Linked DNA regions of Homo sapiens. The protein of the gene in region 1 interacts with the protein of each later gene in a pairwise test. Each region holds a gene or a part of one and is shown on either strand. Other genes may lie near its edges.

Region 1 (3,818 bases):
AGGAAAACTGACTTCAGCTGGAGACAGTGACTGGGCCCTAGCAAAGCAGTTGGGATGGTCCGGGAGCAGAAAACAACGTAGAAATTCATCTGTCCTTGAATTTTTCCTATTTCAACAGAGTATTGATTAATTGATTAATAATAATCTACAAGTTTTATTATGGTGCTATGTTGTTATTTTGTTTTATTTAGCACCAAAACAGCCTCAGAGTCCTGAGCCCCTCAGTTCCCAGCTCCTCCCACAGCTCTTGGCCCAACCTGACCCGGTCCTCCTACCCATACCTGTTTCAGAGCTAGGCTTGTCCTGCTTCCAAACACTCAGCCTCTCAGGCTCTTTGGAATAACCAAGCGAGCACAGACCTTGGAATGAGGCAGATTCGCAGCTGGGTGACCTTAAGCAAGTAACCCAACCTCCCTGAGCCTCCGTTTTCTTATCTATAATATAGGCAGGGGAGCAGGAAATAGGAACACCTACCCTTTATGTGTAACTGGAGCATTAAGAGAGAATACCTTTCACTCTGCCCTGTCTCCAACCTTTAACATTGCAAGAGAAACCATGGCAAAATCAAATTGCCCTTAAAGTGCAGAATTGTAAGGATGTGCTGAGGTATCCTGGAATCTGCTGTTTTACCTGGTTGAGTATTAAGTAAAATTGCTGAACATGCATTGTGGGCCCAACACAGTACAGAATGAATTACCTAAAGCACTCGTAAGTGAAGCCAATTCTTTTCCATGCCATCCACACCATGGAGCAGTTCTGACCCCAATTTGCAAGTGACCAAAGGCTCACCTGTCCTCTTTCTCAGCTGTGCATGTCTTACCTCCTCAGCTAGATGTTCATAGGCAGTACGGTGTTTCCTGTATCTTTTGGATTTCCAATGACATATAACCTAAAATTGGATCCTAGAGGTGCTAAAAACTGCCAATTCTTTAAGTGATTACTTGGATTAAAGCCCCCAAAAGATCTTAAATCTTTCTTCCTCCTGCCCTCCTCATATGCCCCAATCTCCTTTTTCCCAGTTAACATCCCCCAGACCCTAGGATGGAGACCCTGTCATAGATGGCGCAAAGCCAGTGACTCCAGAGCAAGGTCCAGAAGCCAAAGCTACCCGCTGCACTCATGGTGGCCCTGGGGTCTGATTGGGCTGGACTCGGCCACTTTTTAAAGGTGGGGCGAATAGGAGCTAGGTAAGGCAGAGAAGTCTTCCAGGCACTCGTCCAAAGATACCCAGCAAATTTTAAAGCCTTCATCTGGGAGAAAAAGCAGATCTTTACTGACATCCTTTTATTTCATGGCATTTGTTTGGCTAACTAAACCAGTTATAAACTAGTTTATGCTTTTTCAAAAGAGGAAATTTTGAGCCATTTCAGAGATGAGAATGAAAATGGGACTGTGCAGGGAAGAATTTAGTACTAGTTTTTAAGGTAAAACAAGGACTTGATGGAGTTTCTTTATCTAATAAAAAGGGAGCTCCAGGAGAGGCTGCAGGCTGCCTGGGTTGCTCCCTGACACTCCGGCCCCTGCTCTCGGCTGCCCGGCCCTCAGCTCCTCTCCTGTCCCTGTGTCCTTTGGCCCCTAGTCCCTGCTACTGTTACTGGCCTCCTTGCTCTAGCAATCACCGCAGCTCTGGGGTTTTGCTGCTTCGCACTCTCACCTAAGGCAACTGCACCTGCCTGTGTTCCCTGCTGAGCCACGCTGACTGCTTTTTATAAATCATAAATCATGGGATTAAGTGAGCCAATGTCAACCTGGTCTCAGGTGTAAAAGATAAGAATTCAAAAAGGAAGCATTTTCTGGGGATGATGCTTTCACCCATGATGGGGTGGTGACTGGTGTTGGTTTTGTAGGAGAGACACTGGGACACAGGGGCATCTGCCAGCTCCCCCACTGTGGTTGGCATGATTTGGGGCAAACACTGTTGTGATGAGAAGTAGATGGATTGAGAGATTCCAAGCTGCCTCTCTATCCTCCAGATGCCTGGTGCCCTGAAGGGAGCCCTAGTGCTGAGTGTAACTGGAGCAGCCTCAGCCCAGCCAGGACTAGACCAGGGACCAGCAGCCCCTGGTCAGGGAACCTTCTGGCAGCAGCTGTCTCTCCTCCAGGCAGGCTGCAGGAAGCTGTACAAGCTCCCCCTCAGGCACTTTGTAGTATATGTTTTAAATACCAAAATCAGAAAACTTGCAAAACAGCAAGAAACACACTTTTTTAATCTTCTCCACTTGATCAACAGAGTCAACACAATCCCTGTCAAAAGTCCAGAAAGCTATTTTGAAGATGTCAATAAACTTATTCCAGAATTTCTGTGGAAAAGCAGATGAGCTTGAAGAGCCAACAAAACAGTGAAAAAGAACAACAAAGTCAGAGGACTGTCACTCCTTACTTCACAGTAAGTCTGAGTAACTCTCAGACTTACTCTAAAGCCAGTAATCAAGACAGTGTGTTCTTAGCAAAAGAACAGACAAATAGATCAATGAAACAGTAAGGACCACACAAATACAGGCCCACACAAATATAGCCAGGTGATTTCAACAAAGGCACAAAAGCAATTCAATGGGAAAAGGGTAGACTTTTCAACAAACAGTGCTGGAACAATTGGACGTTCATATGAGGAAAAAATTATTTTAAACATAGATCTTATTCCTTACAGAAAAAACTTAACGCCAAATGATCATAGACCTAAATGAAAATTACAAAACTTACAACTTCTAAAAGAAAACATAGAAGAAAATCTCCATGACACTGGATTTGGTGTTTTTAGATATAACATGAAAAGCATCATCCATGAAAGAAAAAATAAATAATAGACTTTATTAAAATTTAAATGGCACCCCAGTAGCAACAAGTACATTGAGCACTCTGATCTTGGTTTCTAATACCATTCTGCACTGGAAGAAATCAGGGATCCCTGGGGGAAGTGGCTTATTCTATGACTATGTCAGGAAATAACAAGTTGAGCCTGGAACATCTTGCAGTGCCAGAGAGTAAATAAGTGTTCCAGAAAGCCACAGCGATGCAGGTCTGGCACAGGACACAGGTGCCAACTGAGAGAGCTCCCAGTGGCCAAAGTTGGAACAATTTAAGCAATAAAACAAATCAAATAGCATTGGATTATAATCTAAAGTATAAAATAGTTGTCCATGCATTCATACTGATAGAAACATAGGATTGAATAAATAAATAAATAGGGAAGGATAGGCTAATCTCCCATGCAGAAGAACTCCAAATGGATTATGTAGACACTCCACCCTCAAGGAGGTGGGGCAGAACTCTCTGCTCTGTATGTGAGGGCTATGCATTCTGACTTCCTTCCAAAGAATCCATTATGGAAACAGTGTGCAGGAAACACTAACTGCAGTGGGGAAACCCGGCAAGCATGAACTCAGCCAGGTGACCATGGTTAGCACCAGTCATGAGTCACCTTGATAGCGTGTCCCTTGATGTGATGTAATGAGAATGATAGTTTACATCTTGTGGTCTTCCTCCCGCAAGGTCCATAACCCCAGTCTAATCATGAGAAAAATGTCACACAATTGTGGCAATTCTACAAAATGTTTGAGCAGTACTCCTTAAAAATTTCAAGGTCATCAAAAGCAAGGGAAGTCTGAGAAAATGTCACAACCAAGAGAAGCCTAAGGAGACATGATGGCTAAAGGTAATAATACCATGTCCTGGATGAGACCCAGAGACACAAAAGGACATTAGGTTAAAATTAAGGACATTTGAATAAAGCATGGACTTTAGTTAATAACAGTGTGTCAATATTGGTCCACTAGTTGCGATAAATGCACCATACTCAGGTAAGATGTTAACATGATGTA
Region 2 (3,818 bases), on another chromosome or scaffold:
TTTCCCTCTCTTCACTCTGACTTCTCCTTGCTGCCGCTATGTAAAGAAGGATGTGTTTGCTTCCCCTTCTGCCATGATTGTAAGTTTCCTGAGGCCTCCCTAGCCCTGCGGAGCTGTGAGTCAATTAAACCTCTTTCCTTTGTAAATTACCCAGTCTCAGGTATGTCTTTATTGGCAGCATGAGAATGGACTAACACCATAAATTGGTACTGAGGTAGTGGGGAGTTACTATTAAAGATACCAGAAAATGTGGAAGCGACTTTGGAACTGGGTAATGGGCAGAGGTTGGAACAGTTTGGAAGGCTCAGAAGAAGACAGGAAAATGTGGGCAAGTTTGGAATTTCCTGGAGATGTAGAGGGCTCAGAAGAAGACAGGAAAATGTGGGAAAGTTTGGAACTTCCTAGAGACTTGCTGAATGGCTTTGACCAAATACTGATAGTGATATGGACAATGAAGTCCAGGCTGAGGTGGTCTCAGATAGAGATGAGGAATTTGTTGGTAACTGGAGCAAAGGTGACTCTTGCTATGGTTTAGTAAAGAGACTGGTGACATTTTACCCTGCCCTAGAGATCTGTGGATCATCAGAGAGATGATTTAGGGTGTCTGGTAGAAGAAATTCCTAAGCAGCAAAGTGTTCAAGAGGTGACAGAGCATAAAAGTTTTGGAAAATTTGCAACCTGACAATGTGGTAGAAAAGAAAAACTCATTTTCTGGGAGAAATTCAAGCCAGCTGCAGAAATTTGCATAAGTAACAAGGAGCTAAATGTTGATTGCCAAGACAAAGGGGAAAATGTCTCCAGGGCATGTCGGAGACCTTTGTAGCAGCTCCTCCCACCCATGGCCTGGAGGCCTAGGAAGAAAAAATGGTTTTGTGGGCTGGGTTCAGGCCCCCCCTGCTGCGTGCAGTCTAGAGACTTGGTGCCCTGCATCCTAGTCATTGCAGCCATGGCTAAAAGGGGCCAAGGCATACAAAGGGGCCAAGGTATAGCTCAGGCTGTAGTTTCAAAGGGTTTAAGCCCCAAGCCTTGGCAGCTTCCATTTGGTGTTGAGCCTATGGGTAAACAGAGGTCAAGAATTGAGGTTTGGGAACCTCCACCTAGATTACAGAGGATATATAGAAATGCCTGGATGTCCAGCCAGAAGTGTGCTGCAGGGACAGAGCCCTCATGGAGAACCTCTGTTAGGGCAACGCAGAAAGGGAATGTGGAGTCAGAGCCCTCACACACAGTCTTCAGTGGGGCACTGCCTAGTGGAGTTCTGAGAAGAGGGCCACTGTCCTCCAGTCGCCAGAATGGTGGATCCACTGATAGCTTGCCCCGTGCACCTGGAAAAGCCACAGACACTCAATGCCAGCTGTGAAGGCGCCAGGAGGGGGCTGTACCCTACAAAGCCACAGGGGTGAAGCTGCCCAAGGCTATGGGAGCCCACCTCTTGCATAAGCATGACCTGAATGTGAGATATAGAGCCAAAGGAGATTATTTCAGAGCTTTAAGATTTAATTACTGCTTTATTGGATTTCAGACTTGCATGGGGCCTGTAGCCCCTTTGTTTTGGCCAATTTCTCCCATTTGGAACAGTTGTATTTACCCAATGCCTGTACCCCCATTGTATCTAGGAAGTAACTAACTTGTTTTTTATTTTACAGACTGATAGGCAGGAGTTGCCTTGTCTCAGGTGAGACTTTGGACTTGGACTTTTGAGTTAATGCTGGAATGAGTTAAGACTTTGGGGAACTGTTGAGAAGGCATGATTGTGTTTTGAAATGTGAGGATATGAGATTTGGGAGGGGCCAAGAGTGTAATGATATGGTTAGGTTTTGTGTCCCCACCCGTCTCATCTTGAACTGTAGTGCTCATAATCCCCATGTGTTGTGGGAGGGACCTGGTGGGAGGTAATTGAATCATGGGGGCAGTTATCCCCATGCTGTTCTCCTGATAGTGAGTGAGTTCTCATGAGAGCTGATGGTTTTATAAGGGGCTTTCCCCCTTTTGCTCACACTTCTTGCTGCCGCCATGTGAAGAAGGATGTGTTTGCTTCCCTTTCCACCATGACTGTAAGTTTCCTGAGGCCTTCTTAGCCATATTGAACTGTGAATCAATTAAACCTCTTTTCTTTATAAATTACCCAGTCTCAGGTATGTCTTTATTAGCAGTATGAGAATGGACTAAAAACTTCCACTGAATTATCCCAATGGGAGAGGAGGGTTAATCCTTATTTCTAGGATTCTGAAGCAGAGGCCAAAGGTGGCAGGAGCAAACATTTATTTGGTTCTTACAGTTTACTCTGTAACATATCTGCACTTATTTAATATAAAACATAATCCTCCAGGTCTTGTATTATTGATGCTCCAGGAAGATGAACCAGGTATGCCCTGAGACTCTGGGGACTATTTGGGACCCTTAGACCTTGGCAAGCTGAGGGACACTATATTCTTGCCCTCACTTTATAAAGCCCCTCTTTTCTGGCCAGGCCCCTCCCTGAAAGATGAGGAGGCTATGGGGTGCCTTGAGCCTGCACTGCCCTTGCACCCCAAACTCTGGTTTGCTTGTAATTGATTGTCCTGAGGTTGCAGTGGGTGCAGTAGGTGGAGAAACCACAAGAGCCACACATCCTAGTTTAAGAGCCCAGGCCTCAGAAGATAAGATGGTCATTAGAACGTTCAGCTTTTCTACTGCTGTGTCTCAAGCTCTTAAATAAACCACTGCTTTAACTTACATTTCCATTTCTGTGGAACAGAGCTGGAAATACCTGGTACCTCTCCTTTTCACTTGTTTGCTAAAAGAATGGTTCAGCTCAGGACCATAATAAATAGTGTGTGATATGGTGTGTGCTGTTTGGAGACAGATACCACAAGCCAAAAATACAAAGTAGTCTTGTTTGGCAAGTCATCCTCACAGTGATTTAAGACACGGCCAGTCTCTCTTCTTAGTCTTATTCTGCCAACTCTTTCAATAACTCCACTAATTAGAACTTAAAGAGTGGTTGATTCCCTGGTATTCTTAAAATGGTCTAATTTGAAAGTTTAAAATCTTTAAAGTTTTAATTCACCTAGTCAGGCCGTTTTAGAATAGCAGCTATATAAAACAGTATGAGGACTCAGTGAGAGGCCAAGTCTAGTCTTTGGGGAGTCTGATGTATACTTTCTTGCTACTAAAATGAGAGATTCAGATAATCCACATAATGGGATTTAAGAGAAGAGAGAGATCCTCAATGTAGTGAAATAGTTGGAGAGATCTACTTGGAGGAGGTAGTATCTGATCCCTACCCTCAAGGGTAGACAGGAATCTGGAAAGGAGGGAGAGGAAGTCCAGCTTGCAGGTGGAACTGAATGGGCAAAAGCTCAGAGGACCATTTTGAGGGTTCCCCCGCTGCAGGTTCCTGTACCATCATGAGCCCTCCCTTTTTTAATGACCCTGTTGTTTCTACTGTCTATGTCTTCAGGCTTTTGTGTTGTCCCTCAAGCTGTGTGTGTATGGGGGGGTGAGGGGTGTGGGGTGAGTGGGTGGGTGGGTGTATTTGAAAGAATGAAGTTCATTGTGTGGCAGAGGATAGTTTGAAATACAAGCCTGAATTCTTTAAGAGCACAGTCCACAGTCCTTGAATTTTTGACCTCTACTAAATCTTTCATGGTTAAGTAACAGTGTTTAAAATATCCTTGTTGATCTGAATGGACTCATAATAATTTTACTGTGTTCAAAACTAGTGCTCTTTCTCTGTGAAGGGCATATTTATGAGAACTTAGTAGATGTGTTTGCTGAAGACGGCATGTAGTGGGATAGATTAATGACATTTTGTAAATGTTTTCTTTTCAAAAATG

Evidence for each region.
Region 2: the proteins of MC2R (region 1) and MRAP2 interact in a two-hybrid assay, tested with the Homo sapiens proteins (one large-scale study listed by BioGRID and IntAct).

Annotation. Positions count from the first base shown.
Region 1 is NC_000018.10:13,908,922-13,912,739, reverse strand, and holds part of MC2R (adrenocorticotropic hormone receptor), read left to right. Parts: intron 1-3,818. UniProt on the Homo sapiens protein: Hormone receptor primarily expressed in adrenal cortex that plays a key role in regulating adrenocortical function. Upon corticotropin (ACTH) binding, facilitates the release of adrenal glucocorticoids, including cortisol and corticosterone.
Region 2 is NC_000006.12:84,040,176-84,043,993, forward strand, and holds part of MRAP2 (melanocortin-2 receptor accessory protein 2), read left to right. Parts: intron 1-3,818. UniProt on the Homo sapiens protein: Modulator of melanocortin receptor 4 (MC4R), a receptor involved in energy homeostasis. Plays a central role in the control of energy homeostasis and body weight regulation by increasing ligand-sensitivity of MC4R and MC4R-mediated generation of cAMP.